Linked DNA regions of Homo sapiens: all the other regions are linked to region 2. Evidence: fine-mapped expression QTL. A gene starts in region 2. Each other region holds a variant in brackets. All regions are shown on one strand. Distances are between the middles of the regions.

The links.
Region 1: its variant is fine-mapped to the expression of CD177 in whole blood (INTERVAL, PIP 0.98).
Region 3: its variant is fine-mapped to the expression of CD177 in whole blood (INTERVAL, PIP 0.99).
Region 4: its variant is fine-mapped to the expression of CD177 in whole blood (INTERVAL, PIP 0.97). The same link has a PIP of 0.9 or more in transverse colon.
Region 5: its variant is fine-mapped to the expression of CD177 in whole blood (INTERVAL, PIP above 0.99). The same link has a PIP of 0.9 or more in gastroesophageal junction and tibial nerve.
Region 6: its variant is fine-mapped to the expression of CD177 in whole blood (TOPMed, PIP above 0.99). The same link has a PIP of 0.9 or more in lung.

Annotation. Positions count from the first base shown.
Region 1 is chr19:43,291,623-43,296,921 of GRCh38, reverse strand. No RefSeq gene overlaps it. Among named protein-coding and RNA genes, the nearest start is that of PSG9, 25 kb to the right of the region's middle. The variant G/T (reference allele first, on the strand shown) is at 2,742.
Region 2 is chr19:43,351,197-43,356,495 of GRCh38, reverse strand. It overlaps CD177 (CD177 molecule), which reads right to left and starts at 2,810. Exons shown (of 9, transcript NM_020406.4): 1 at 2,730-2,810; 2 at 2,503-2,643; 3 at 2,104-2,289; 4 at 713-835; 5 at 388-504. The coding sequence starts at 2,781.
Region 3 is chr19:43,328,524-43,333,822 of GRCh38, reverse strand. It overlaps LINC03078 (long intergenic non-protein coding RNA 3078), which reads left to right and starts at 2,315. Exons shown (of 2, transcript NR_186343.1): 1 at 2,315-2,479; 2 at 4,315-4,834. The variant C/T (reference allele first, on the strand shown) is at 2,899.
Region 4 is chr19:43,417,580-43,422,878 of GRCh38, reverse strand. TEX101 (testis expressed 101) reads right to left here. Exons shown (of 6, transcript NM_001130011.3): 5 at 4,873-5,001; 6 at 4,282-4,711. The coding sequence ends at 4,482. Among named protein-coding and RNA genes, the nearest start is that of TEX101, 5.3 kb to the right of the region's middle. The variant TA/A (reference allele first, on the strand shown) is at 2,667.
Region 5 is chr19:43,282,712-43,288,010 of GRCh38, reverse strand. It overlaps the pseudogene CEACAMP11. Among named protein-coding and RNA genes, the nearest start is that of PSG9, 16 kb to the right of the region's middle. The variant C/A (reference allele first, on the strand shown) is at 2,158.
Region 6 is chr19:43,319,068-43,324,366 of GRCh38, reverse strand. No RefSeq gene overlaps it. Among named protein-coding and RNA genes, the nearest start is that of LINC03078, 9.8 kb to the left of the region's middle. The variant G/A (reference allele first, on the strand shown) is at 2,316.

The sequences.
Region 1 (5,299 bases), 60 kb after region 2:
TCTCTTTACAAAAGGACACATTTCAAAACATTGGTTATATTACCAAGGCTTTGACTGAGATGTTATATTTGAGAATATACATAGAATGGACCCATAAGTACTGCAGGCAAAGTCTGAAGATGGCCTTCATTTGGCTTCCTCATCTCAAGAGGTTTGTAAAAGTTTAATCTGAGACTCCTTATAAAAACGTCTAGCGATGCAAACTTTAGGAAGAGTCTCTGTGGTCCAATGCTACTCTTGATGCACTTATGTAAAGAATCCCGGCAAAGTTTGATAAGACTAAACCTACTTTGGAAACAAATTTATCCTACTGGGATTATCTTTGGTAAAAATAGATATTCTTATAGAGAGAAAAATAACGTTGAAAATAAAAAGTGTAGTATACCTGCTATGAAATTGCAGCTCTGTTCATTGTTTTTGAGTTTTTATTATTCACCGGTAGACTGAACTAGACCCTGAATTCTTCTAGTTCCTCCCATCCAATTTTCTCTTATTGAATCAGTAAGAACAAAATCTGCTTTATTCCTGAAGCCCTATAAGTTGGAGGTGGAAAGCTCAATGTAAATTTCACGGGAAAACCCTCGTGTCTGAAGTATGAGTCACTCAGAGCTCACCAATATGTTTGACACCATAACTACAGACACTCAAACTTAAAACCAGGATAAGAAGTTGACAACTTCACACTGTCAAAAGCTTTTCCCAAGTTGTCAGAACAAGTCTCCACATCAAAATCAGGCTCTTACCCCTCTTAATTTGTCCATGCTTATGCCTGCCTCTTTCACTTGGCAGGATGATGGTATCATTAGAATTTCACATGAAGTAGCTTCTGAGAGTAGTGTAACAGAGTGACAGATATATCATGTCACCCTCAAATTTTTACATAAGATATCATTTAGTCCACCCAATGGCTGACATTAGCACCATCTTTAACACAATTGTTTGTTCAAATGTACAGTGGTCCCTTTTAAAGTTACATTTTCAGACTCGTTCTCATTCCCTGTTTTAATTTAATGAGCCATCGAATGCTACATAATAAAATTGTTCCCTACCAGCTGAACAGGGAGGAGCCTGTGCAGTTTCTGACACTGATTGTTGCACATAAACAAATACATCGAGTATCATAACAACTCAATCACAAAAGTTACCAAACATACTACTTGGTTAAAATTGCTAGATTCTTCTGGCTCATTCTTTGATCTATTCTATTTTACTTGGTTTGCATCTTGCCTAAAGTGCATACTCCAAACTTTTGGTATTATCCTCCCAATAGTCATACTAGTAGCCTCTCTGGTGTGATAAATTCTACAGGTTTTTAAATTCTACAATTTGGTGTGGTGAATTCTACAAAAGTTTTTAAAAAGTTTTGTGTGCAGCCATCAACAAATACCAAAGGGTCTCTCTTTGGCTGAAATGACAAAAACTCAAAGAAATGTGTGATCAGGAAGACATCATAAACCTATAAATGATGGAAGCCCAATATGATGGTTACTGAGATGAATGCCAATGCTTTAAATTTTGGTCACACTCTCACCTAAGTGAGAGCCTAGAGACTCCAAAATAGAACCACTCATGCTAAATGCTACAGTCTACAACTGAAATTTTAATGAAGCAAAGAGATACCAGAACAGACCTTTGTTTTTTGTTGAAAACAGGAGATTCCACTCTACCTGAGACAGCATAATAAAAGTTTCCTCTGCTTTAACTTTTACAGAAAAGTGACCTGAAGTACCCTAATGTTCACCAATTTATTTATTTATATGGCTTTGTTTACTGGTTCCCACTTGACAAAACCCACTGTTTTGTTATTGTATAGCCCAGGGAGGGCTGTCACTATATTTGTAGAGTGAGAGCTGCCTCAAATAATAAATGAAAAATAAAATCTATAACTACATTAGTTGTAATTTTGTCTTTTGATGCATGCTCACACCCAGCATTGGCCAGTGGAGTCTCACAGGCTCATCATTCTCACACGGATGCCCCTGCTTTTCTTTGTCACTTACAAGGACACTTCTGATTACAATGGGCCCACCCAGATAATCTAGAATAACATCTACATCTTAAGATTTTAATTTTATCACCCCTGCACTGTGTTTTTACCAAGAAAAGTAAATGCACAGGTTCCAGAGCTAGGGTGCAAACATTTTAGGAGTCCGTTATTCTGCCTAACACAGGTAACTTTCATAAATATCACCCACAACAAAAACTTGCTTTGCCTTCCTTCTGTGTCTCTTTTCTGTCTGTGCACAAACGTCAAGGTGAAAGACACAAGCTCTATGAAGTAGCTGGATGACTCTAGACCACTCATTTGAGCTGCCTCAGCCTCTTTTCTCATCTTCAGCAGAAGGGTGACCGTTCACGCATCAGAAAATGAAAGTGGAAGAGTAAATCAAAATGTGTAAGATATTAGTCACAGAGCAAGGTACCAGATGAGCCCCTGGGTAAACTTTTGTTTTTTTTTTGGGATGGAGTCTCACTCTGTCACCCAGGCTGGAGTGCAATGTCACAATCTCAGCTCACTGCAACCTCCGCATCCCAAGTTCAAGTGATTCTCCTGCCTTCAGCCTCCTGAGTAGCTGGGATTACAGGTGCGTGCCACCACGCCTGGCTAATTTTTGTATTTTTAGTAGAGATGGGGTTTCACCATGTTGGTCAGGCTGGTCTCAAACTCCTGACCTTGTGATCCGCCCACCTCGGCCTCCCAAAGTGCTGGGATTACAGGCATGAGCCACCATGCCCAGCCG[G/T]TAAACTTTTTTATCAGACCTTTCCTTTCACCATTCCATTTCTGTCACCCTCACCCATCTTCTCCTCTGACTTTTTTCTCTTCAGTGACTTACTTGGTCTAATATGCTGTTTAGCATCAAAAGCCACACTACAAATTCTTTTGTGACTCTCTTGGAATGTTCTTGTGATGTCCAGAACCTTGGAAGCCTAAGCCTTACATCAGTGTGCCCTGAATATGAGATATGGGGTCAAAGGAGATTATTTTGGAGCTTTAAGTTTTAAAGACTGTGCTGCAAGGTTTCAGACTTTCATGGGGCCTGTATCTTATTTCCTTCAGCCTATTTCTTCCCTTTGGAATGGGAGTATTTACCCAATGCCTATACTTCCATTGTGTCTTGAAAGTAACTAACTTGTGTTTGAATTTACAGGCTCATAGGTAAAAGGAACTTGCCTTGTCGCAGATGAAACTTGCTATTTTGGACTTCTGAGTTAATGCTGAGTGAGTTAAGACTCTAGAGACTGTTGGGAAGCCATTCTTATATTATTAAATGTGAGAAAGACATGAGATTTGGGAGGGAAGATGGAGAGAATAATTTTTTTTGGACCTTTACCCCCACCCAAATCTCAAGTCAAATTGTAATCTCCAAAGTTGGAGGTGGAGCCTGGTTGGATGTGATTGGATCATGGAGGTGGTTTCTCATATGTTAACACCATTCTCCTTGGTGCTGTTATAGCAACAGTGAGTTTTATCTGGTTCTTTACCAGTGTGCAACCCTTGCTCTCTTCCTCCAGCTCCCATTATATAAGATGTCTTCCTCCACCACTGGCTTTCTCCATGATTGTAAGTTTTCTGAGGCCTCCTCAAAATCTGAGCAGATGCCAGAATCATGCTTACTCTACAACCTGCTGAATCATGAGACCATTCAAACTCTTTTCTTTATAAATTATTCAGGTTCATGTATTTGTCTGTAGCAATGTAAAAACAGACTTATACAGCCTTATTTTCAGTAGAAAAAAAACTAGGGAGTAAACCATTCTAACTATGTACCAGATGCAAAGCCCAAGACAAAGAACAGAGCTATGAAGAAAATGCCTGGATAATCCCACCTCTCCCAGCATGGCCAAAAGGCACAGCTGGAGGATGGGATGGGTTTTGTCCCCAGTTCTTACTATGGTCACTCATCTAGAACTCAGAATTTAAAGCTTCAAATATAAAGACATAAGCTCACAGACAAATTAAGAAAATGTATATATACACAAGCAACTCTTTGATGACCTTAAAACATCTAGTAAAGACAATATAAACCTGCCTGCCAACAGACATAGGCAAAAGTGTATAAATTAAATTATGAAGACATTTCTACTTTATTTTACCAACAATTTTAAAGCTATCTATATTCACCAAAGGTTACTAAAATCACATATATAGAAAAGCATTTGGGCTTATTCACTTAATTTGTGAGTACTCATTTATTTTTACATTAATTTGATACTATGTGTAAACAGTATATAAACGTGTGACATATACATATATGTGATGAAACATATATATGTTCACATAAAGATAGAGAGAGACAAAAAGATTCTAGAATTTTGATTTTAGGAGTTTAGGCATGAGATCAGTAAAACCCACCATTTTAAAGGATAGTTGGATTCAAATTGCTGTCTTGTAAATGGTAAAGGTTAACATTTATCTGAGGAAGGCTTTACCTAGTTTTAGAGAAAATACATAGCACATTTACATCTCAAAGCAAAGAGAGAGAGAGAGAACTTAAGCTTTTTCAAGAGAAAATTTGGTGTGTTCAAGGAAGATTAAAAATAGATGCCAAGGTAACACAAAAAAATAGAAATTTACCATGGGGTTTTATTTTTTTATTATACTTTAAGTTTTAGGGTACATGTGCACAACGTGCAAGTTAGTTACATATGTATACATGTGCCATGTTGGTGTGCTGCAACCATTAACTCATCATTTAACATTAGGTATATCTCCTAATTTCATGGTGACCACCAGGTAGAAGCCACATTTGCATAATAAAAGAATAGGATGGGAGGGCCAGTCTTTTTTCAGGCTATGTAAATGGAACACCTGGTCAAAACAATCCCCTGGACCCTATGTAAATCAATCACTGCCTCCTTAAGTCTCTGTACAAAATCAATTGCATTCCACCCCAAATTGGAGACCCTCTCTTGGGTGACTGCTTTCTCAGTATGAGAAAGCTTTTTCTCTCTCTCTTCTTTTTTGTCTGTTAAATTTTTCAATCCTAAACACACTCCTCATGTGTTTCCATGTCCTGAATTCTTTCTCAGTGTGTGACAAAGAACCATGGATAGATTCCCAAACAGAGTCATTTTATTTGGGAGTTCTCATCTGGGATTGTGATCAGAAGAGAAGATAGAAACATCAGAATGGTGAGTATGGAGCAAACCTCAAATCTGTCCTTTAATTTCAAGGTTCTCTTCCAACTAGTTTCCTTTCATGGAGAACCTCACCATCACATGAGGCTGGGGGATGTCCTGGAACAGCTGAGAATTTCTGGCCAGGACACACCCTGATGTTATTCAAAGGCTTCTGGAC
Region 2 (5,299 bases):
TCTCTGTCACACCCAAAGTCCCCTTGATTTTCTCTCTGATGTTCTCTCCTGTGCAGGCAAGGCTGCTGGGGCACTCCAGCACCATGAGCGGGGCGGGGGCTGATACGGGTGGGAGAGAGGCTACGGTGGCCTAGGGAAGTGGGAGACCTAGGGTTACCCAAGGCCAGGGGTGTGGAGACACAGAAATTGAAGCAACCAGTCACTCTCAGCAGCTTGAGAGCCAGCAGGGGCCCCAGCACTCACTGTTGCCTAAAGCCACATGCCAAGCAACCCACCCTGCACCCTTGACCTTCCTCCTGCTGGCTTTGGTGTGATGGCTCTGGATGCCCCATGTGTCATCGTGCCCCGAGGCTGCAGTCCAGGGCACAGCCTAGGGGCAGGACTCACCTTTCATATCGCAGTTCTCAGTCATACCCACGGGCCCAATTTCCTGTGTCCCATTGAGCAGGTTGCAAACTGGCTGGGGCATGCATCCCTGGACTCTCAGATTGGAGAAGATGCCTCCTGCAGAAAGGGGGAGCGAGGGAGAGTCAGTGATGCTGCCTCCAGGACCACCCAACCCTCAGAGGCAGGCATAGCTCCAGGAAGCCAGGCCCACCCTCCTCTGGGTCTCATGCCGTGCCTCAGCTCACCTCACTCCCCAAAGCCTAAGATCTCAGTCCCCAGACCTTCCAGTTCAGTCCCCACAGGGACCCCGATGTCCCAGGCTTACCTCCCCTGAGCCTGAGGAGGCCATCATAACAGTGTGTGGTCCCCTTGGGGCAGATCTCTTCTGTTGTCCCCTCCAGACAGCCTTCCATAGACAAGCAGACTGGGCACCTCAAGGATCCTGGGTCTAGGAAAGTGACAGACAGAGTGAGGGGGCACTGAGAGGGCACTGGATTTGATCAGATACCTTCTCTGCACCCCACTTTTGCTGGCCTCAAGAGTCAACCTGCTCAGCCTTCCCAAAGGGGCCTTCTGCAGCTCCCATCATGGGATCTGGATGTGGGAAAATAAAGAAGTGTAATCCATAAAAGAGGAAGGGAGAATGAACAGGAGGTCTGGGTAGAGGCACCCAGGGCTGGGTACAGAAAGTGGTCTTGGCTGGGTGTGGTGACTCACACCTGTAATCCCAGCACTTTGGGAGGCTGAGGCAGGTGGATCACGAGGTCAGGAGTTCAAGACCAGCCTGGGCAACATAGTGAAACCCTGTCTCTACTAAAAATACAAAAATTAGCCGGGCGTGGTGGCAGGCTCCTCTAGTCCCTGCTACGTGGGAGGCTGACGCAGGAGAATCGCTTGAACCCGGGAGTCGGAGGTTGCAGTGAGCCGAGATTGCGCCACTGCACTCCAGCCTGGTCGACACAGCGAGACGCTTTCTCAGAAAAAAAAAAAAAAAAAAAAAAAAAGAAAAGAAAAGGGGGGGTGTCTTGGGTGGCAAGTGGGGGTGGGGGGTGGGCAGGGTGGAGGAGGGGCCTGCTGAGGCCAAATGTAGACTCAGACATGGTCAAGTCTGAACCTTTCAACAAAGTCTGGCCTTCCGAGGGGAGACACAGAAGCAGACTCATTGGTCAAGGGAATGAGGGGGTGCCCTGGAACGAGCCAGTGCCTTCACCTGCAAGCGCTACTAAACCTCCAAGAACAGGAGACTTCTGTGTTCACAAGCTGTTCCAATAAAAGAAGCGCAAAATATCTCCCTAGACTCTTTATAACACCAGACAAGGAAAGTGGAAAGTTACAGTTCAGTCTCCCTTAGGAAGAGGAAATAGCAAAAACCCTGCAGGAGAACTTCTTGAACCAAACGCAACAGAATAAAAAAAGAATGCAGGATAACCCAGTTAATGGTGATTTCATATCAGAAATCCGTCCTGTTTGCTCTTAGAAGAGGAGGGGTGCGGGGATTCCCGGGTGGCAGGTCGGTGGGAGGGATCGGGAGTGAGTGGGGAGGGATGGAAAGGGAGCGGGGCGGGGCGATGGTCAGGGAGCAGTCAGGGGAGGGATGGAGCCAGCGAGGGTCGGGATAGCGAGCGAGGGTGGGAGGGACTCCGTAACAGCCCCTCTGTGCTCAGCGGATCCCCTTCTAGCAGCCCCTCCCTCTCCTCCCGACCCTCCCGCAGGCACCTGCTGGGGGCTGTGGGGCCCAAAGCGGGAGGGAGTTAACGAGGTTGTTGCAGAAGTCCTCCTGGCGGCACACGAAGGTGTAGGAGATCAGGGAGAGGCCGGGGCCCATCCGGTGCTCAGTGACGCGGGGCTCCTGGTCCTTGGCCTCCGTGCAGCCCTTGGAGAGCACCAGGCTCACTTGGGGTCCTGGACCGAAAGAGGGAGGCAAGCGAGGATGGAGGTCAGGCCTCCAGGGTCCTGGAGGGAGACGCTGCTACACGGCGTAGGCTGAGAGGCTGGAAAGGGGATCACCGGGACCCTAGGAGTCGATCCCCCGGAGGGGTGGCTCCCGGGTCCCTGCACAGGGATCAAGGGACTGAGGGGACAGGGCGGGGTCTCTGCACGCCAGGGCCTTCTCACCGCTCTCAATGAGCATCAACGTGTCCTGGCACCCCAAGCCGCTGTCGCAGCTGGTGTTCTTAGGGGTCCATTGCCGGGGCAGGTCGGACACCTTCCACACATGCTGAACTGTCCCAAACTGGCAGAGCAGCGCCTGCACTCCTGGAGTGGCAAGAGCAAATCCATCTCAGCAGGGTTCCCTTGCCCGGCCTCCAGGGAATCTCCTCCAGGCTGGGCTCATCACTCACCTGGCAGTGGGAGGATGAACCCCAGGAGGGCCAGCAGTAATACCGCGCTCATGACCCGTCTGTGGCTGGTAATCTCTTTCTGCTTTTTCAGCAGGAAACAAGTCCTTTATACCAGCCCTTAAGCAGCCAGCCCAGAAAAGGGTGGGGAGGGGAGGGCCTTGCAAAATGGAGGCTTGGGCCCCACCCCAAGTCTCAATGGCCGCAGTGGCCTATCAGGGACCCCCTTTCTTCCTCAGACCTTCGGGTCCAGGCATCCAGCCCCTCCTCCCTCAGATGGAGGGTCCAGGACCCCCAGCCCCTCAGCCCCTCCTCCTTCAGACCCAGGAGTCCAGACCCCCAGCCCCTCCGCCCTCAGACCCAGGAGTCCAGGCCCCCAGTCCCTCCTCCCTCAGACCCAGGAGTCCAGGCCCCCAGTGCCTCCTCCCTCAGACCCAGGAGTCCAGCCCCCCAGCCCCTCCTCCCTCAGACCCAGGAGTCCAGGCCCCAGGCCTCCCTCTCTCAGACCCAGGAGTCCAGGCCCCGAGGCCCTCCTCCCTCCGACCCAGGAGTCCAGACCCCCAGGCCCTCCTCCCTCAGACCCAGGAGTCCAGGCCCCCAGGCCCTCCATAGTTAGAAACTGTGGCATCTTGACCCGAGGTTCCCCCGGTCCAGACTCCCAGCCCTCTTTCCTCCTGAGCCCAGCTATGTGGATCACCACCCCCACCCTCTTTCTCCAGTAGTTTGGGAAGGCAGTTTCCTCATTTCTCATGGGCTCCCTGGCCACCTCTGTACCCCAGATGGGGAAATGGCCCAACTACCTGTGAGGACGTTGTGCAGTGGGCATCAGCTTGTCCCCATGTCTTCCGGTCCTAGTTTCTACCCTCCACTGTCTTCCCACTTCTCTGTTCTTTCTCTTTCCTTCTTATATTGCTTTCTTTTGATTCTTCTTTTCATGCTTTTCTCTCATGCTTTCTCTTCTATTCTCTACCCTCACAGTACAACATAGGACTCAAGTCCCCAGTTTCCTACCACCAGGAAAGGCTTGGCCAGAGGTGGAGTAGAGACTGAATATCTATGAAAGAATTAGGATATATCTGAAAAATGCAACATTTATTTGCTGGAAGCCGATGGGAGAGCAGTGTTGTGCTGAAAAACCAAGTTTTCTGAAAAACAATACCCACAAATCCTGCCTCGTAGTGTTGGCCTATTTCTCTGGTGTAAATACTCATAGCATGTCTGATTTTAAGCTACCTACAGTTTGCCAACCAGGCTGATGAAATCCCTAGCTATTTAACCATGGGCTTGTCCAGGGCTGTACAAATCAGCTGTAACACACTGGGGTGGCGGGGAGGAAGACAGGAAGGAACCTGGGGTATCTGTCAGTGACTGCAGAGGGACGTTGTGGGTGTCTGTGACGGAGAGAGGAGAAGCAGAAGAGGGAAGGCGAGAGCAGGAATAGCAGAGAAAGAGAAATGAATGTGACTTGCAATTATATGTTTATTTTTGACATCTCTATAAATTTTATCTTTATTTGTCTTTGCAAGTTTATTGCAAGTTTAATATTTGCCACACAGACAGGGAAGTGTTTGTCTGATCTCCTGCTATGTCTCCACCACCTACATGGCATACAGTACATGCCCAGTAATTTTTTTTTTTTTTTAGAAACAGAGTCTTGCTCTCACCTATGCTGGAGTACAGTGGTGCAGTTGTAGCTCACTGCAGGTCACTACAGCCTCCATCTCCTGGACTCAAGCAACTCTCCCACCTCAGCCTCCCGAGTAACTGGGACTACAGGTGCACACCACCATGTCTGGTTAATTTTTGTATTTTCAATAGAGACAGGGTTTCACTATGTTGTTCAGGCTGGTCTCAAACTCCTGACCTGCGGTGTTTTCATTTTGAAAAATTTCAGGCTGGGAGCGGTGACTCATACCAGTCATCCTAGCACTTTGGGAAGCCAAGGCGGGTGGATCTATTGAAGTCAGGAGATTGAAACCAACCTGGACAACACGGTGAAACCCCATCTCTACTTAAAAAAAAAATACAAAAATTAGCCCGGTGTAGTGGCAGCCACCTGTAGTCCCAGCTACTCCGGAGACTGAGACAGGAGAATCGCTTGAACCCAAGAGGCAGAGGTTGCAGTGAGCCGAGATCGCACCACTGCACTCCAGCCTGGGCAACAGAGTAAGACTCCATCTCAAAAAAAAAGACGGAAAAATTTCAAACCGGCAGAAAAGTTGCAAGGATAGTACAGTGAACACAAGTATCCCCTTCACTGGATTCACCCACTCTTCACATTTTATTGTATCTGTTTATACACACACAACATATGCTTTTAAAATATTCTTAAATTTTAAAAACAAGGAGTAGACATTGTAACTCTCACCACTAAGTGCTTCAGCAAGAACCTTCTTAAGATTATTCTTAAGGGGGCTGGGCACAGTGACTCACACCTGTAATCCCAGCACTTTGGAAGGATCACTTTAAGTCAGGAGTTCAAGACCAGCCTGGCCAACATGGTGAAACCCCATCTCTACTAAAAATATAAAAATTAGCTGGACATGGTGACACACAACTGTAATCCCAGCTAC
Region 3 (5,299 bases), 23 kb after region 2:
ATATCTCTATTCGTATCTGTACCCCAATTTCATTGGCCAATGCCTCCAGTACAATATTGAGTAACAGCAGTGACAGTGGGCATCAGACAGGGACACAGTTGACCTGGAGGCAGCACCCCCAGTGCTGTGATGGAGGAACACAGGGCATTCTGGGGACCACCTACCTCCCAGGCTGGCATCCTCTCTCTAAAGCCCCCAGAGATACCTCCCTGAGCCCTTCCTTTGAAACCTTGGGGACAGGTGGCTCCTTCTAAGGCAGCCCATCCTCCTGGTGGACAGTTCTCTTGAATCTCGACCTGCTGTTCTCTGGATAACTCCTGTCCTCTCCCTGGGCTCATCTTGCACTGCATGGAGTTGGGCAGCCTGGGGACCTGCAGTGAACAGGACCTGGGGTGACCTGACCCTGCAGTCTGGAGGTCAGATCCCACTTCTGCCCAGGGGTCAGGGCCAGCTCATACCATGCAGACCCTGGTCAGTGTCCCTGGGGCAGCCCCTGACAAGGCCACAAGTCTCCTCTTGCCCTCCAGGGGGCGACATCACACACAGATAACACTCAGGAAATGGATTCCCCTGGACAGGAACCTGGCTTTGCTAAGGAGGTAGAGGTGGAGCCTGGTTTCCAGCCCTTGCCCCAAATGACCCTTCTGGTCCCTGCCATGTGCCTGCTCCTTCATGGTGCCTGCTCTGCCAAGGGTTTTTGTGCAGCTCCCCACTTCCTCCTGGCATCACCCATGGGGAAGGTGTGGTAGCCACAGGACACACACACACACACACACACACACACACACACACACAGACAGACACAGTCTTTCTATCTCTCTCGCCCCCCCAACCACCTGCAAGGTTAAGGGGTGAACATAGGGAGAACATGGACAGGCCCTGAGCCACAGCTCAGCCAACAGACACAGAAAGGGAGGGTCTCCATGAAGCCTTCCCCAAGGACAGCAGGGCTCAGAGCCACCCACCTCCCTCCACCACAGTCCTCTCTACCCAGGACACACAGGACAACTTCCTCCACACCCTGGAGCTGGAGCTCCACCTGAGTCCAGCCTGGGTCTCTTTGGGTCAGAGGCCAGGCTGGTGACACTGGAGACAGAGGGCTGGTCCCTCCCCAGTCATCCCCCAGTGAGCTCCTTTCTATCCCCCAGAGCCACCTCTGTCACCTTCCTGCTGGGCATCATCCCACCTTCCCAAGCACTAAAGAGCATGGGGAGACCTGGCCAGCTGGGTTTCTGCATCACAAAGAAAGAATTCCCCAGGTTTGGATCCCCAGGGTTCTGTGTGTGGAGCTGACAGACCTGAGGCCAGGAGATAGCAGAGGTCAGCCCTGGGGAGGGCGGGTCATCCTCCCAGGGGACAGGGTTGCACCAGCCTTGCTACTGAAAGGGCCTCCCCAGGACAGCGCCATCAGCCCCACCTGAGAGCTTTGCTAAACAGCAGTCAGAGGAGGCCATGGCAGTGGCTGAGCTCCTGCTCCAGGCCCCAACAGACCAGACCAACAGCACAATGCAGTCCTTCCCCAATGTCACAGGTCACCAAAGGAAAACTGAGCTGCTACCTGACCTTCGAAAGATAATAGCCGATTTCCCAAACAGGCCAGTTTCAATCGCATGACAATGACCTCCCCTCTGCTCTCACCGTTTCTAAAACAGGAACCTGATTCTCCCCCATCAGAGATTTCTCCCTTGTTCCATGAGCCTTTCCCGAGTGGCCCTGTTTTTTGTGTTTGCTTTCCGCAGCCCTCCCCTCTCTATTAAACCCGCGCTTCTGCTCAGCTCCTTGACCCACGTATTGTCTCATGGGATGAAGTCTCGCCCGATTTTAGGACGGCAAATAAAGCCACTTGAAGTCTTTATCTGTGCTAGTTTGTCCTGTGACAGCTCTGTGTATCTGTATGTGTACATGTGTCTCAGTTTCAATGAATCTGAGTATATATGTGTGTGTGTCTGTATATGTGAGTGTTTGCCTCTATGTCTGTATATATGTGTATATGTGTTTGCCTGTATGTCTGTATATATGTGTGTCTGTGTTTGTGTCATGTCTGTGTGTATGTGTGTGTGCATCTCTGTGTGTGTCTCTGTGTGTGTCTCTGTGTGTGTATATGTGTGTGTGTGTGGACAAGTGTGGAAGGAGAGCCATATCTGAAGAAGGCAAATGGCCTCAGCAGGTCCTAAGGACCAAACACACACAGAAGGGAAGGGGAAGCAGGAACCAGAAGGCAGGACTGAGAGGGGAGGGGACAGAGAAGCATCCTGGGCAGAGTCCCGCCCCTGCCCCTGGCCCTAGGAAGTGCTCCTGCCCTGAGAGAAGGCTCAGCACAGAGGGAGGAAAGACAGCAGAACTGGCAGTCACAGTAGCTCTGATCATCCTGGAGCTAAGCTCCTCTCCACAGAAGAGAAGCAGGCAGCAGAGACCATGAGGCCCCCCTCAGCCCCTCCCCGCAGAGGATGCATCCCCTGGCAGGGGCTCCTGCTCACAGGTGAGGGAGGACTCCCTGGGAGAGGGTGGGAGGAGGAAGCACAGAGACTGGCTGGTGTCTCCTGGGGAGGACGGAGCTTTGAGAGGGGATAGAAGGCTTCTGTTGAAGCCTGAATAGGGGAGAGGACATCAGAGAGGGACAGGAGTCACAGCAGGAAAATTACATTGAACTGGAATTGGAAAGGGGCAGGAAAACCTCAATTGCTCCGTGTTTCTAAGGCAGTAATCAGTGGCCACTAAATATTGAAAAATGATAAGGAAAGCAACCATTTATGTCACCATGGCACTGCAGAAAACAAACCTTCCCAGGGACTCCTGGGAAACCCCCTGCCTGGTCTGAGACCCGCTCTGAGGAAGCAGAGGGTAGGCTTGGGCCCAAGAGAGGCCGACCATGCCACAGGTGGGGGCAAAGGGGTGCTC[C/T]GGGGGAACTTACAGCCCAGGCAGGCTTGGGTAGCAGCAACGCAAGGAAGGCCCCCTACGTGCTCTGCACGCCTCTCTGGCATTTGATATCATGAAAAGAAAAGGAGAGGGAGAAAAGGGAGAGAAAAGGAAAAGAACATTCTTGGCATGTGGAGCCATCTATCGCTTTCTTAGTCCGTTTACTCTCTACTTAAAGGAAGCCTCTCCCTGCTACAATCTGGGTAACATCCATAAGAGGCGGGGATGTCCTGGGCAGCAGCAGCCATCTGGGGTCCTGAGTGTTCTCTCCCTTGGCCACCTCCTCCACCTCACTTCAAGGTCCCTGTTCAGAACACATTTCCACAACAGCACAAACGCTGTCCTCACCTGCCTACCTCAGACATTGGCAAATAAACTAATGTTTCTCATGGTTTAACACCATCTTCCTTGGTGCTGTCATTATGATAGTGAGTTCTCATGAGATCCAGTTTTCTGAAAGTGTGTAGGAAAGCATGTGGTAGAAAAGAAAAGCCCATGTTCAGGGGAGGAATTCAAGCAGGCTGCAGAAATTTGCATAAGTAAAGGGAGCGAAGTGCTAATAGCCAAAACAATAAGGAGAAGGCCTTAAAGGCATTTCAGAGACCTTTGCAGCAGCCCTTCCCATCACAGGACCAGAGGCCTAGGAGGACAGAATAAATTTTGGGCCAGGCCCAGGGCTCTGCTGCCCTGTGCAGCCTCAGGACACTGCTCACTGCATCCCAGCTGCTCTAGTCATGGCTCAAAAGGGTCAAGGTACAGCTCGGCCTGTTGCTTCAGAAGGTACATGTCATAAAGCTTGGCAGCTTCCATGTGGTGGTAACCCTGCAGGTGCACAAAGTGCAACAGTTTAGGCTTGGGAGCCTACATTTCAGAGGATATATAGAAAAGCCTGAATGTCCAGGCAGAAGCCTGCTACAAGGGCAGTGCCCTCATGAAGAACCTCTACTAGGGCAGTATAGAAGCAAAATGTGGGGTAAGTGTCTCCACACAGTTTTCACTGGGCCAGGAGCTGGGAGAAGATACCCACCATCCTCAAGACCCTGGAATGGAAGAGCCACTGGCAGCTTGCACACTGCACCTGGAAAAGCCATAGGCACGCAATGCCGGCCCATGAGAGTAGCCATGAGGGTTGAGCCCTGCAAAGCCACAGGAGTAGAGCTTCTCAGGGCCTTGGGAGTCTAACCCTTGCATCAGTGTGCCCTAAATGTGAGATATGGGGTCAAAGGAGATTATTTTGGAGCTTTAGTTTTAAAGACTGTGCTGCTGGGTGTCAGACTTGCATGGGGCCTGTATCTTATTTCTTTTGGCTTATTTCTACCTTTTGGAATTGGAGTATTTACCCAATGCCTAAATCCCCATTGTATCTTGGAAGTAAATAACTTGTTTCTGATTTCACAGGCTCATGGGCAAAAGGGACTTGCCTTGTCTCAGAAGAGACTTGGGACTTTGGACTTTACTGGTAATGCTGGAAAGAGGTAATGGACTGTTGGAAAACCATTGTTACATTTTGAAATGTGAGAAATGTCAGGCCTCTGAGCCCAAGCCAAGCCATCGCATCCCCTGTGACTTGCATGTATATGCCCAGATGGCCTGAAGTAACTGAAGAATCACAAAAGAAGTGAAAAGGCCCTGCCCCGCCTTATCTGATGACATTCCACCATTGTGATTTGTTCTTGCCCCACCTTAACTGAGTGATTAACCCTGTGAATTTCCTTTTCCTGGCTCAGAAGCTCCCCCACTGAGCACCTTGTGACCCCCGCCCCTGCCCACCAGAGAACAACCCCCTTTGACTGTAATTTTCCATTACCTTCCCAAATCCTACAAAACGGCCCCACCCCTATCTCCCTTTGCTGACTCTCTTTTCGGACTCAGCCCACCTGCACCCAGGTGAAATAAACAACCATGTTGCTCACACAAAGCCTGTTTGGTGGTCTCTTCACATGGACGCGCATGAAATTTGGTGCCATGACTCGGATCGGGGGACCTCCCTTGGGAGATCAATCCCCTGTCCTCCTGTTCTTTGCTCCGTGAGAAAGATCCACCTACAACCTCAGGTCCTCAGACCGACCAGCCCAAGGAACATCTCACCAATTTTAAATCAGGTAAGCGGTCTCTTCTTACTCTCTTCTCCAACCTCTCTCACTGTCCCTCAACCACTTTCTCCTTTCCACTCTTCAATCTCTCCCTTCTCTTAATTTCAATTCCTTTCATTTTCTGGGAGAGACAAAGGAGACATGTTTTATCCGTGGACCCAAAACTCCGGCGCCGGTCACAGACTGGGAAGGCAGCTTTCCCTTGGTGTTTAATCATTGCAGGGACGCCTCTCTGATTATTCACCCACGTTTCAAAGGTGTCAGACCACGCAGGGACGCCTGTCTTGGTC
Region 4 (5,299 bases), 66 kb before region 2:
CCAAATTAAGATGTATCATGATTGTGAAATACACACCACATTTTGAAGACTTAGTATAAAAAAGAATGTAAGATAGCTCATTAAAATTTGTATTGATTACATGTTTAATGGTAATATTTTGGATATACCATTCAGTTAAATAAAATACATCTCTATTGCTATGATTTTGCCATTTCAAGAATATTATATACATGGATTCATATAGTACATATATGACCTTTGAGATGGACTTTTTTCCACTCAGCATAATGCCATTGAGATCCAGCCAAGTTTCTGTGTGTATAAATAGTTTGTTTCTTTCTATTGTGGAGTTTAACATTCACCTACTGTAAGACATTTTGGTTGTTTTCATTTTGGGCTATTACAAATAAAGCTGCTAAGAACAAGCACATACATGATTTTGTGTTGACTTAAGTTTCCATTTCTTGTGGATGAACGCTCAGCAGTATGACTGCTGGGTAGATGGTAAGTGTGTGTTTAGTTTTTAAATAAATGGCCAAACTATTTTCCAGAGTGGGTGCACCATTTCACATTCTTACAGCAATATATGAGAGATCTAGTTTCTCAATTCCTCTCCAGAATTTGGCATTGTCACTCCTTCCTTTTCTTTCTCTTTCTTTCCTCTCTTTTCTTTTCTTTCTTTCTTTCTCTTTCTTTCTTTCCTTCCTTCCTTCCTTCCTTCCTTTCTTTCTCTCTTTCTTTTTCTTCCTTTCTTCCTTTTTCTTTCTCTCTGTCTCTGAGACAGGGTCATGCTCTATCATCTAGGGAGGAGGAGTGCAGTGGCGTGACCTCAGCAAACTGTCCACCTCCCTGGGTCAAGCCATCCTCTTGTCTCAGCCTCCCAAATAGCTGTGACTATGTACAGGCACACACTACCATGCCCAGTTAATTTTTGTATTTTTTGTAGAGACGGGGTTTCACTATGTTGCCCAGGCTGGTCTCAAACTCCTGAGCTCAAGTAATCCACTCGCCTTGGCCTCCCAAAGTGCTGGCACTATAGGTGTGGGCCACTGCACCTGGCCCTCAGTTAAAATTTGATTTTCGTGTGCTTCTTCTTCCTCTTTAGGGAGATTTAGCAAACTGACACAATGGGGACTGGCTACCTAAGGACAAAGATAAGGAATTAGCTAGAGTAGCGCTTAAACTGCAGGAGAGTGGTATAAATAAAAAAAAAATGATTGAGGTGAGTCTTAATTATTTTAGTTTCTTTTGCTAAGGTTTAGGACATGCCCAGGAAAAAGAAACACAAAACCACAGGAACATCTGTGATCTGTGCTTTTTCCAAAGAGGATTTGGGAACTTCAATTTTTTTTTTTTTTTTTTTTTTTTGAGAGAAAGTTTCACTTTTGTTGCCAGGCTGGAGTGCAGTGGCATGATCTCGGCTCACTGCAACCTCTGCCTCCCAGGTTCAAGCAGTTCTCCTGCCTCAGCCTCCCGAGTAGCTGGGATTACAGGCATCCGCCACCATGCCTAGCTAATTTTTTATATTTTTAGTAGAGACGGGGTTTCACCATGTTGGCCAGGCTGGTCTTGAACTCCGACCTCAGGTGATCCACCTGCCTCGACCTCCCAAAGTGCTGGGATTACAAGCATGAGCCACCACACCCGGCCTGGGGACTTCAATATTTAAAGTGGGGAAAGGAGTGGGCAATAGGAGAAAGAGGAAAGAAAAAAAGGAGGAGAGTAAATAAAAAGGGAAAGTGGTTGCATTCTTTTGAGGCTTTGATCAGCTTTCAGTGAATCTACATTTTACATGTGAAAGGAGAGGGTAGAGGAATAGTCAACTATGCAATCATCTTGCCCTCAGTGAATTTGCATTTTTTTTTTTGAGACGGAGTTTTGCTCTTGTCACCCAGGCTGGAGTGCGATGGCCGGATCTCAGCTCACTGCAATCTCTGCCTTCTGGGTTCAAGTGATTCTCCACCTCAGCCTCCTGAATAGCTGGGATTACAGGCATCTGCCACCACACCTGGTAAATTTTTGTATTTTTAGTAGAGATGGGGTTTTACCATGTTGGCCAGGCTGGTCTCAAACTCCTGAGCTCGTGATCTGCCCGCCTTGGCCTCCCAAAGTGTTGGGATTACAGGGGTGAGCCACCGTGTCTGGCCAGATTTGCATTTTTACATAAAATAAACTAAACATCTAGTAGAGGAAAGAGTGAAATAGGCATTTGTCTCAGGTGAGCAGAGGGATGACTTCTGGTCCTGTCTTGTCCAGTACCTGTGAAGATAAACTGTTAATTACATTGCCAGGGTGAAACTCAAGCAGAACTGTTTTAGGGTAAAGATCTTGGGGCCCACAAGGAATTTCCTTGTGGCCAAATTGTGAGCAAGGCCTGCTGGGGAGGTGTGTAGACTTCTAAATCTTTGCAGCTACATATTTAGGAACAAAATAAGGGGCAGTTTGGTGTGACTCCATTCCCAAGCCTGACTTTTCCCTTTAGCATAGTGAGTTTGGTATCCCAAGATTTTTTTTTTCCCTTTCTCAGTGGGTAGAACCAGAGAACTTTCTAGAAAGAACTTGGTTGGAATATATATACTATGGCCAAACTCCCCAGTCTTTTGAGAGGGGAACAAGTGTTTGTAATAAAAGTCTCTCCTTCCACCTCTGGTGCCGTTTACTGTGTGTCAGATAAGTCTTAGTAAAGCTGTTTTTTTTTTTTTTTT[TA/A]GAAGAAAATATCTGTCTCCCTTTTACCCTCCCCACCTTTTACTTTGCTCTATACACCTCTGATATCATTTGAGTCTTTTACAATAAGATAGAGCTTATGTATTTTTGAGTAATAATAAGCATGAGAATTTTCCAAAAATCTTTGCCGCCCAAGTAGTCACAGGTCCCCATTCACCATACTGTAATGAATCCTTCCTCCCTCCCTCCCAAGTCCACTGAAGAGTCATTAAGTCAGCCCCAGGGAAGGGAAGGAATGATGTAGAGCAGGCAAGGGATAGACAGGACACAGAGAAATGGGGCCCACTGTAATGAGAGAATTTGCCTTTTGTTTTGATAGAGGATCTCACTCTGTCATCCAGTCTGAAGTACAGAGGCATGATCATGGCTCACTGCAGCCTCAACCTCCTGAGCTCAAGTGCAGACAAAAAATAAAATTATAAGCCACTCCCCGCCCCCAACCATCTGAAGGGTCCCCTCCTCTCAGCCAGGGCTTTCCAAAGTTAACCTGAAAAACTGGTTCAGGCCATGCTGTGGGAAGGGAGAGTCGGCCATGCCTCAATATACCCGCCTCCCTTTTGGATTTTGGGAAAAGCTGACCAGCATGAACATCAACACAGACCTTAAGTCTGATAAACATTTACAATGTATTCTCTCTGAAGCCTGCGACATGGTGGCTTCATTTGTGTAATAAAACTTTGGTTTCCACAATCCCTTATCATCGTAACCCAGACATTCCTTTCTACTGATTCCAGGTCTTTAGATAATAACTCTTTTAACCAATGGCCAATCAGAAAATTTTTGAATCTACCTATAACCTGGAAGTTTCCTCCACTTGGAGTTGTCCTGCCTTTCTGGACTGAAACAATGTACATCTTACATGTATTTGATTGCCTCATGTCTTCCTAAACGGTATAAAACTAGGCTGTGCCCCGACCACCTTAGGCACGTTTTCAGGGTCTCCTGAGGGCTGTGTCACACACCACGGTCACTCACATTTGGTTCAGAATAAATCTTTTCAAATATTTTACAGAGTTTGACTCTTTTTGTGGACATAAGTGATCATCCCACTTCAGCCTCCCAAGTAGCTGGGACTACAGGCGAGCGCCACCATGCCAGGCTAATTTTTGGATTATTTTTTTTTGTAGAGATGTAGTCTCATTAGGTTGCCCAGGCTGGTCTCAAACTCCTTGGCTCATGCAATCCTCCCACCTCTGCCTCTCAAAGTGCTGGGATTACAGGTATAAGCCACTACAGCAGGCCCATAACTGGAGAATTTGGAGTCTGATTTTTCTCATTTGGCCATACTTCCTAGGGAAATTTTAGAACCCCAAAACAGCAGCCTTAAGATTGGGCTGGGAGTGTTCTGGAGGAGGCTAATGCTAGTTACTTCTGCTAGCAAGGAGAGCTAGCATATTAGAGTGAAAGGAAAATCAGACTTTACGTCAAAATATGTAAGTTCTTGCCTTGGCTCTGGCCATAGCTAAATGTAAGAAACTCACTGAAATTTTCCAGATCTCAGATTCTCTTTCTGGAGAATGTGTGGTTTGGAGAAGATGAATTTTAAAGGCTCTTTCAGCACTAAAATTCCACTTCTAGTGTTGAAACATACACAAATCACAGCAGAAATGTTTATTAGTAACGCCTACTGCATACAAAAATTATAGCAGAAATTGTATTAAAAATGTCAAATACGTTCATAGTATCTCTGTATTCTCCCTCAAATTCCCATCTACTCCTCAGCTTGTTGAACCTCAACAGTAAGAAGGCTCCCAGTCAAAAAAGATGTCCTCAGACCCAGGCCCAGAAGTGCCTTCTTAGGAAAAGTGAATAAATGATGGCAGCAGCAATGGCAGCAGTAGCTGTAACCCCCAAACAGGAATGGGAAGACAGGTGGCCCCATTTTCAGTCTTTCGAGGTTGAGTGAGCAGCTGATGTGGGCACGCTTCCCTCACAAACATGGGTCCTACTGCTAAGATTCCAGACATCAGCCTGCAGCCAATCATGGCTGTACAGCCTTTGACCTCCACAGACGACTCAATGCCACCTATAGAACAAGGAAGGATCGGGAGAGACAGAGATGTTTTAGGACATCAGAGGAGAATCCAGTCCCCCCTCATCCCTGGAGAGCTCAGTGTCAGAATCTCTGGGGAGCCACTCAAATGGTTTTCCAGCCTCTGAAACTATCAGATGTTCATTTCAGTTTACCTCCAGTGATCTCAAGTTTTCCTTGATAGCATCGAGTTGTACCATTGGGACAGGGAAGAGAAGGAGCACTGAAACAGGTCCCCAAAGCCACACAGGTTGGACAATGGAGGGTTGTTGACACAGTGGAAGCTGGAGGGAAATGAGAGAGACAGTTAAGGGCAGGTCCTGCCTCCAGAGATGTTGCTCCTTGCTGCCTTCTCTTCCCCAAGATTTTCCTGCAGATGCCACTCTAATCAAGGCCCATTACTTCAGCCTCCCCATCCTTCCCCAGCTGGTGTTCTCTGCTGTGAAATCTCCATCGATCTGACTTCCAAACTCTGCTGAGGTGTGAAGATACAGAGATGAAAAGGACATAGTTCCTGTCACCTGGCATCTCTGCCTAGGAGAAAGACATGTAAGTAATCAATTCAGTAGCTGCTGTGTTCAA
Region 5 (5,299 bases), 68 kb after region 2:
TAGCCCTCATACACTTCCATGCAGACCTCTCATGACATTATCTGCAGACAGGTTCAAGAAGTACCGTCCAGCAAACAGCACATGCACAACATAAATGTATTTGCAGAGACTCAGAGCTAACCTGGAGGCACGAACCTCGGCACTGCCAGGACACATACCCTTCCCCATGGATTCTGACTTTATCTGACCCAGCCCACTATCCAGATCTTGTTGTGGGGCTGGGGTAGAGAAAGTCACAAAGCCTGTTCCCTGGACACTCTGTGTGACACTCAAGACCACCCCCACCCCATCATTAGGTCTCCCCACACAGGTCTGACCATCATGCATCGTGAGGAGGACTCTAGCATAGGCTCAGAAACCATACAAAAGAATTAGCCACAGAGAGAAACACTGAGCTAGAGGAGCTGGTTGCTGACATGGAACAGGTTCCCTGTAGTTCAGGAGTCCAACTCGGTCTGAATTTCCCTCACTTCATAAGCCAGGCACCCCTGAGAAACAGCTTTTTCCCATGGTCTCCTCTGTGGTAACACATTAGGGTCCCTCGCTGTCAAGATTCTAGAGATGGAAGAAACCTGGACAGCACACATCCCAGCTTCACCCTTCCTCTCTTTCTCCCTCCCTGCCAGGAATCAGGGCTCAGGGCTCAGGAGGAAAGGCACAGCCCAGTGAGGCCAGAGTTGGTGAGATGTCTGAAAGGTGTTCAGTGAAAAAAGTGCATCCCTCTTTCATTCTACCTGATGAGCCCTGTCCTGCACAGCTTCCTCCACCCTGAGGACTTCCCCAGACACCCTCTCTAACAAAGCTGACTGCCCCGTTTCCTTTCTGCTCACACTTAGGCCTGTCCTGCCTTCTGGGAAATGTAAAATGCACCAAAATCAGCCAAAGCAGCCACCCCTGCCAGGATCCATAATAAGGCAATGTCCCTGGGTCACCAAGAGAATGAGCTTCCACTGTGTCGCAGTCCAGGGCTCTTTCCCTCTGAGAGGCTGACTCATGAAACAGGCCACCAGAAAGAGATCAGTGACTCCTCCATCCATTCTTATAATCACCTGACAGGTTCTTGCCCTCTGCGCAGGCAAAGCCAATTTATTGTGAAGGTGATGTGTAGTAAAAAATGGTTTTGCTTAGCCCAAGGCTGCCAAACAGGAGGATAGAAGTTTATTATGACTCAAATCAGCTTCCCCAGTGGCTCAGAGGTTAGAGTTTTTCAAAAACTTTGAGGGGCAAAGTTCTAAGGAATAAGTACTGTTGACTGGCTAAAGATGAAATGATGCCGGTAGGGGAAATGGTCTGTATTTGTTGAATCTGCCTCTGAGTGGGGGGCCACATGACTGGTTGAGCCATTGGTCATGAGTCTAGATGAGGTCAGCTGGTTGCCGGAATGCAAAAATCTGAGAAACATCTCCAAAGACAAATCTCAGATTCTACAATAGTGTTGCTATCTATAGGAGCAACTAGGAAAGTCACAAATCTTGTGACCTCTGGACACATGACTCCTGAGCAGTAAGGGATTATAGAAACTATGCCTGCATTTTAGCAGAATTTGGGCTCCTGCATAATTCATGGTCTTTTCTTAGATTTACCACGGTAGTCCCCGACAAGGAGGGAGCTAATTTTAGGGAGGGACTATTATCATCCTTGCGTCAAAGTTAAACTATAAATTCCTTCCATGCTTACCCTGGCCTATGCCCAAGAATCAGAGAGGACACCCAGCCTGAGGCTAGAGGTGAGATGGGGTCAGCCAAGCTAGCTTCCTCTCACCATCATATGCTTTGCAAAGGTGGTTTCACTTTCTACATAGACTCACCAGGTGGTCAGACGCTGAAGGACAGACCTGCAGTTTCCAAAGCCCATGGGCTCATTTCACCCATTTCACTCATGACTCCATCCTCAACCTGCTGTGGGGCTCATATCCTCCAGTCATGCCCTAGAGACTTCGAATTTCCGCCAGGCATGTAAGTAGCTTAAAAATTTTCACTCAGTTCTAACAACAAGTAAAAAGCTGAACAAACTGAAAAAACAACAACTCATTTAGATTTGTCAGAGAAGCAAGGTCTCAGTGCTAACTGGCCCACATATTGAAGAGACCCACAGGCAAATACAGAGCAGCGCACCGTACCTGAGCAGAAACACAGGCACAGAAACCTCAGCGGGAAC[C/A]AGTGCTGGGGTCAGAAAACCTCAACTCTAATTGAGGAAATTCTGGAGGCTCAGTGTGGACACAGCGCAGAGATAAACACACCAGTGGATGAATTAGCCTTGGGAGTAGGGGGACAGTTTTATGACTCTTAGCTCCTGGAGCTCTACCAGGTTCTCACAGTCAATATCCAAAAAGAATCCCTGCATCCTTCTTGTAGGAGAGAAGGGAAAAAAACACTTGGAAAGTTGTCAGTGAATTATATTCTTCTTGGTAAGACCTACATTTAAGAGGAACTATTTTACTGCAGCCTAATTAGCTGGGGTTTGATGGGAGCTTAACTGGCCAGGGGGAGGGGAAATATCCAACTCCAGCCTCCTCAAGTCATCATATCCCACCTAATGGAAAGAAAAACCTGAGAGGCACTTGTGACATTCACAGCCCAGGACACAGATCTCATCCAGAACCACAGAACCCTTCCCTCCCCTCACTCACCACCATGTCACTGAATGCCTGCTCACTCAAGTCCCTTTTACCCAGTACATCATGTGTGGTTTTCAAAAAAATACAAGACAGACTATGGCAAAAAAAAAAAAAAAAATAATGCAGTTTGAAAAACAGAGCAAGGATCAGAACCAGACACAGATGTGGTAGGGATGTTGAAATTATCAGACTGAAAATTTAAAACAACTCTGGTTAAGGATTATGATGGAAAAAGGAGACACCTTTCAGGAATAGATGGGTGATTTAAACAGAGAGATGGCTATTCTAAGAAAGAAGCAAAAGAAATGCTAGAGATTAAAAACACTTTAAGCGAAATAAAGAATGCCCTGCATGGGCTTACTGGTAGGCTGCCCACAGCTGAGGAAAGAATCTCTAGCTTAAGTGTGTGTCAATAGGAACTTCCAAAACTGAAACAGCAAAGTTTAACAAGAGTGAGAAAAAGTGGAACAACATATTCAGCTTCATATTCAATATTTGGTATTGACAATAGCATATTTTATATTCTGAAGTTGTATTTTATATTTTGTAGCCTACAAAGGCTGTAACATACACATAATGGGAATACTGGTGGTTCCTAGGACCAGGTGGAGCTGGCCAGGTGGGTGCTGTTTGATTTACTGCCTGTTTCATGCACACCTGTGTACTCATAATAACAACAGTGTCATAAGGTGGGGTCCTTCGGGTGGGGAGATGCATGAGCCACTGCTGCCTCACTTAGACTCTGCCCAATTTAAACAAAGTTAATCAAACTCTAATTATATGACCCTGCTCAATTCACAGTTCACCAGTATTGCTGCTTGATTCACAGTTCAGAAGTCTGTGCATCTCCCACACAGAGCAGGTGGCCCCATGGTCTCTGAGCCCTCAGATCATCATGCATCCATCTGTCTTTTGACACACAGAACTGCTGTGGGCTTTTAAGGACTTGGATTGGCTGAGAGGTGGGAGATGTCAACTCTGATTGGAAAATGCTCGTGGAGAAATCAATGGTGCCACACAGGGGAATCTTCTCTGTTATCTGCACAGTGAATCTGCCCAAGCCCTATGTCACCAGCAACCCCGCGGAGGATGAGGAGGCTGTGGTCTTAACCTGTGAACCTGAGACTCATGGCACAATCTACATGTGGTGGGTAAATAGTCATAGACTCACACTCAGTCCCAGGCTAAAGATGTCCAATGATAACAGGGTCCTTGCTCTACTCAGTGTCACAAGGAGTGACACAGGACTCTATGAATGTCAAAGGAAGAATGTAGTGAGTACCAGCCACAGTGACCCAGTCACCTGGATGTTCTCTGTGAGTATCCTCTTTTCCTTCATGGACAAGGCTGCCAGCCCAAATCCACATAACACGAGGCCAGGCCTCTCAGTCCCTCTCAGGTCCAAGTATGAAGACACTTACCCCTGGACCCCCAAGCTGGCCATGACTTTCTGTCCCAGGCAAACCTGGGTAGGCCCAGGAAGGGAGGGGCTTCTCCGGTCTTAGGGGACTCTGGTTCCATAGCTTGCGATGGGAGAACACGTGAATGTCTTAGACTCCTCCAGTTCAGTGAACACAGAAGAAATTTGGCTGGGACTTCAGGGTTGTGACTTGGCAAAAAGGAACATTGTGTCCCTTTCACAGACCAGGAGCTTCCCATTCCCTCTGATAACATTACCTGTGGCTTTATTCTCTTTGCTCCAGATGGCCCAGATGAACCCACAACTTATTCTTCAGACACCTATTACTATGCAGGGTCAAACCTCAACCTCTCCTGCCTCATGGGCTCTAACCCATCAGCAGAGTATTCTTGGCTGCTGAATGGGAATAACCAGCAAACAGGACAAGAGCTCTTTATCCCCCAAGTCACTACAGAGAATAGTGGGGACTATCTGTGTTATGTCCATAACCCAGTCACTAATGGCAAAAACTTCGCAACCAAGAAAATCACAGTCCCTGGTAAGTGGATCGCTGGAGCATTGGCAATATGCTTTCAGGTGAAGCCTATCTGGCTTTCCAAGAAAGAGCCAGGAAAACATTTTTATTCTCAGCCTGTGTCCCATGCACAAAAGTAAATCCCAAATTTTTCTCCTGAACACTCCCAATTCATATCTACAGATTCTCTTCCCTTTGTTTTCCAGATTTCTGGTGGATGACCTTGGGTCCAGCCTGAGAAATGTAGGGAAATGGCTTTATCAGCCCCAAGCACTATGCAGTATAAGGGCCTTCACAGACGGAGAAAGAGGAGGGTCCTCATGGTCAAGCTGTTTCTGTCACCAAAACATCCCTTCTGTCTCCTTTGTGTGTGTGTCTGTGTGTGTGTACTCCATGAGCTGCGATGAACATCAGAGGCTTCAAAACAAGCCCACACTTTTCCCCAAATGACAGGAGGAAGCCCCTTGGGTGAAGCAGAAGCAGCTCAGACTCTGCTCCCTGCATTGCTGTGGGCTCGCTCAGTGACCGACCCTGCCCTGACTCCAGCCGGGGGGTGGGGCAGGCATGTGGATAAGGTGCCTGGGTGGCCGGTTCTGAATCTGGCTAAATCGAGCTGCCAGTAGAAGCTAAGCCTCCCATGGGTAAGGCTTTAAAAAATGGGAATAGGACTGTGTCCTGGCTCTGAAGTCACTGCCTGTGTGAGTTTGTGGACACAGCTCCTGGAACACAGCACAGAGGACAGTGAGTG
Region 6 (5,299 bases), 32 kb after region 2:
GCCACTCTTAACTCTTGAAGTAAATAAATAATCTTTGCTGGCAGGACTATGCTGAATCTCCTTAGGCACTCTCTAATCAGATGTCCTAGGTCCTCCCAATTCTTAGACCTTTTATACCTGTTTTTCTCCTTCTTATTCCATTTAGTTTTTCAATTCACACAAAACTGTATCCAGGCCATCACCAATCATACTATATGACAAATGTTTCTTCTAACAACCCCACAATATCACCCCTTACCACAAGATCTCCTTTCAGCTTAATCTCTCCCACTCTAGGTTCCCACCCGCCCCTAATCCCGCTTGAAGCAGCCCTGAGAAACATCGCCCATTCTCTCTCCATACCACCCCCCAAAAATTTTCGCCACCCCAACACTTCAACACTATTTTGTTTTATTTTTCTTATTAATATAAGAAGGCAGGAATGTCAGTCCTCTGAGCCCAAGCCAAGCCATCGCATCCCCTGTGACTTGCACGTATACGCCCAGATGGCCTGAAGTTACTGAAGAATCACAAAAGAAGTGAAAAGGCCCTGCCCCGCCTTAACTGATGACATTCCACCATTGTGATTTGTTCCTGCCCCACCTTAACTGAGTGATTAACCCTGTGAATTTCCTTCTCCTGGCTCAGAAGCTCCCCCACTGAGCACCTTGTGACCCCCGCCCCTGCCCACCAGAGAACAACCCCCTTTGACTGTAATTTTCCATTACCTTCCCAAATCCTATAAAATGGCCCCATCCCTATCTCCCTTTGCTGACTCTCTTTTCGGACTCAGCCCACCTGCACCCAGGTGAAATAAACAACCATGTTGCTCACACAAAGCCTGTTTGGTGGTCTCTTCACACGGACACGTATGAAAAGAAAGACATGAGATTTGAGAGAAACCAGGGAAAGAATGATATGTTTTGGATTTATATTCCCACTCAAATCTCATGTCAAGTTGTAATCTCCAAAGTTGTAGGTGGAGCCTGGTTGAAGGTGATTGGATTATGGGGATGGTTTCTCATGGTTTAACACCATTCCTCTTGGTGCTTTCCTAGTGACAGTGAGTTCTCAGGTGATCTGGTTAAGAGTGTGTAACCCTTGCTGTCTTCCTCCTGCTCTCACCTGTGAGATGCCTTGTTCTGCCTTGGCCTTCCACAATGATTGTAAGTTTCCCGAGGCCTCCTCAAAAGCTGAGCAAATGTGAGAGTCATGCCAAACCATGAGCCAATTCAACCTCTTTTCTTTATAAATTACCCAGTCTCAGGTATTTCTCAGTAGCAATGTGAGAACAAACAAATACAGCATTATTTTCAGGAGAGAAAAAACAGGAAGTAAGCAATTCTAACTAGTTACCAGGTGTAAAGCCCAAGATAAACAGCAAAGCTATGAAGATTATACCTGGAGAATCTAATCTCTTCCAGCATGGCCAAAAGGCACAGCTGTGGGATGGGATGAGTTTTGTCCCCAGTTCTTGCTATGGTCGCTCATCTAGAACTCAGAATCTAAAGGCTCAAATCTAAAGATATAAGGTCACAGAAAAATTAAGAAAATGTATATATACAGAAGCAACCATATGATGACCCTAAAACATCTAGTAAATACAATATAAAAATGTCTGCCAACAGACCCAGGCACAAATGTCTAAATTAAATCTGAAGACATTTCTACTTCATTTTACCAATAATTTTTAAACTATCTTTATTTACCAAAGATTACTAAAATCACATGTATTGAAAAGCATTTGGGATTATTTACTTAATTTATGAGTACTTATTTTTACATTAATTTGATACCATGTATGTAAACAACATATAATCATATGTATGGACATAGACATATATGTGATACAGCATATAACATACACATGTGCACATAAAGATAGAGGGAGGCAGAAAGAGTTTAGAGTTTTGATTTCAGCATAGGACCGATCAAATTCAGTATTTAAAAAAGACAGTTGGATTAAATTTGTGCCTTTGTAAATGGAAGAGGTTAACATTTAATTAAGCCAGACTTTATTGAGTTTTAGAGAAAATTGGTAGCAAATTTACATCTCAAAGCACAGAGAGAAAGAGAACTAAAGCTTTTACAAGAAGGAATTTGTGTGTGTTCAAGGAAGATTAAAAATAGATGCCAAGGTAACACAAAAATGACAGAAATTTACCATAGGATTTTATAAGGAGACCAATTTTATTTAGATAGGCAGCTTTTAATTTGGTCTCTGTTTTCCAACTGGACCACTGAGCTCAGGACAGAGCCCATTAAGGAAGAGGACCAACGAAGTCTTGCAACTTTTAGATCCTAATAATTTAAATACATAAAAAGAAGACCCAGTT[G/A]CAAGGGACAGCATCCAGACCTTTATAAATCAAGGATTTCACTGAATCCCAGGTCCCTGAGAAGAGGAAAATGCCAATGGAACCATACTATGCAACACTTCCACAGTGTACTTTGCTATAAGGGCATTTTTCTAATTATTTAAACTGTGTATTTCTTATCTAAACTTGCAAAGAAATGAGTAGCATTCTGAAGTAATAATCATTTATTGCGAGCGCTGTTAGTCACCTCCAAAACCAAAGCTCTTACCAGTGACCCAGCAGCCATCACACATATAAGGTCAAGCATTTTTACAGTGCAAAGTAATCTCTGATGCCCCCAAAAGCCAAAGAGGTCAGGGAAAATGGAAAAGAGAGCAGAGTTTTAGACCTGAGAGGAATCCATTTACTTACAACTCTTGGGGTTCCATGAGGAAAAACAGTGGTTTCTCCTAAATAGGGAAGTCTGTGGCATCTTTTCTGTTTTCCTTAAGGGGTTCCAGGCTGTCAGAAATTCTTTAGGTTCCCTCATGTGGCATCAAGAATAGCAAGAGGAAGGATGGAAAGAGAAATAAGCAGAAAAAGAATTTTTAAGAAAAAAACCAGACAGACTAAGCACATGATTTAAAAAGATTTCAGTCAACTGAAAAAAAATCTTTCAAAGATACAAAAGAGATGGCCAGAGGCAGTGGCTCACATCTGTAATGGCAGCACTTTGGGAGACTGAGGCGGGCAGATTACTCAAGGCCAGGAGTTCAAGACCAGCAACATGGCGAAACCCAGTCTCTAGTAAAAATACAAAAATCAGTCAGGTGTGGTGGCACGTGCCTGTAATCTCAGCTGCTCAAGAGGCTGAGGCCCAAGAATCCCTTGAACCCAGGAGGTGGAGGTTGCAGCGAGCTGAGATTGTGCCACTGCACTTAAGCCTGGGTGACAGAGTGACAGCCTGTCTCAAAAAAAAAAAAAGATACAAAAGAGAAAAGCAGAAAAGCCTTCAATATACATTCAAGTCCTTTCTCAATATATATCCAATATGAATTTATATATTCTGTGTATATACATATTCTATATATATATAATATTTTATATATATATTATTTTAATATATACATGGCTTAATATTATAAATATTAATAATTATATGGCTTAAATACCATTAATAAATATATGGCTTAAATACCAGTTTTTAATTAAGCTGACTCTTAATCACAGAGCTGTTTTGGGAAATCCTTCTCTTAGCTGCCAAACATAGCTGAGAAATGACACCAAAGCATGTTAGCAGCAGTGAATCTGTAGACGTCTTCAGCAACCTCAATTCTTGCCTCTTTAGAAGAAGTAATTTGACTAAGAGGCATAAGGCAGAAGAAGGGACTGAGGTAAGTGTTAGAGCAGGAGTAAAAGTTTATTTAAAAGCTTTAAGGCAGGAATTAAAGGAAGTAAAGTACAATTAAAAGAGAGTCAAGCAGGCTGGATACAGTGACTCACACTTGTAATCCTAGCACTTTGGGAGGCCGAGATGGGTAGATCACCTGAGGTCAGGAGTTTGAGACCAACCTGGCCAACATGGTGAAATTTCGTCTCTACCAAAAATACAAAAATTAGCTGGGTGTGGTAGCATGTGCCTGTAGTCCCAGCTACTAGGGAGGCTGAGGCGGGAGGATCATTTGAACCTGGGAGGCGAAGGTTGCAGTGATCTGAGATCATGCCACTGCACTCTAGCCTGGGTGACAGAGCAAGACTCTGTTGCAAAAAAATAAATAAATAAAAATAAAAAAATAAAAAAGCCAAGCAGGCAACAAGAGATCAAGTGCATTGCTTGACCTCTGACTTAGGCTTTTGTATGTTGGCATAATTCTGGGGTCTGCATCTCCTCTCCCCTTATTTTCCCTTTGGAGTGGGCTGTCTGCATGTGCAGTGGCCTGCTAGCACTTGGGGTGGGGTGAACATGCGCAGTGTATTTACTGGAGTTGTATGCATGCTCACTTGAGGTGTTCTTCTCTTTCCAGTCAAATGTCCCTGGGAGGTCACAAACCAGTTAAACTCCACCATTTTGCCTCTTAATGCACATGTTTTAGCCCACTCACCCAACTTCTGAGAACTTATCAGGAAGGAGCTGATCAACTGTTTCAGGTGTTTCCTGTCTATTGGGAGACTGCCTTTCCCTGGTGCTAGCTACAACCCATTATTATTTTAGAGAGACAGTTAACGACCACCTGACAATCACCTGATGGTCATGACATTCCTGGTGTGTGGGGGAAGGAGGCTCCCTCCTGTCCTGCTGATGTCTGACTAGCTACCCACTGTAATACTTTCAGATTTTTTATTATCAGATTTTAGCTAGGACAAACAGCTGATATTTCTGGCTTTTGAATTTTTTTTTAACCAAAAGTATCCTCCCAGCTGAAACTGATAAGCACTAACCATAATTGTGACTTAGCCAAGGATGCATGAGACATCTCCAAAGATGTAAATGAGTACCACAAAAACTCAAAAATCACACAAATATCAAAACAAAAGTGGCAGAGGCATTTGAAGTAGAGTGACTCCATCTTGAGTGAGGGCTGGGAAAATGAGGCTGGGACTTGTTGGGCTGCATTTCCAGAAAGTGAGGCATTCCTAGCCTCTAGATGTTTATGGTTAAGGGAACAAATCAATAATATTTACTAAACAGACCCAGACTTGGGAGTGTCCAGATATCCCAATATCTGGAAAACAAAGTGATTCCTAATTTTGCTTTAAAGATAATAACTTAGATTCTTGCAAAATATCACAATTAAGAAAATTAATCCTTATCACAAACCTTTGTAGCAGGGTACATCTCCCCATATATATGAGCACTGTACCTAGGGTGGGTGTGTGCCTCCTCTTACTTTCAAGAACATCCTACTGTGACTATGGAGTAGCTGTACTTTCACTACTTTACTTTCTTAATAAACTTGCTTTTACTTTGCGCTGCAGACTTGCCCTGAATTCTTTCTCGTGCAAGATCCAAGAATCCTCTCTTTGGG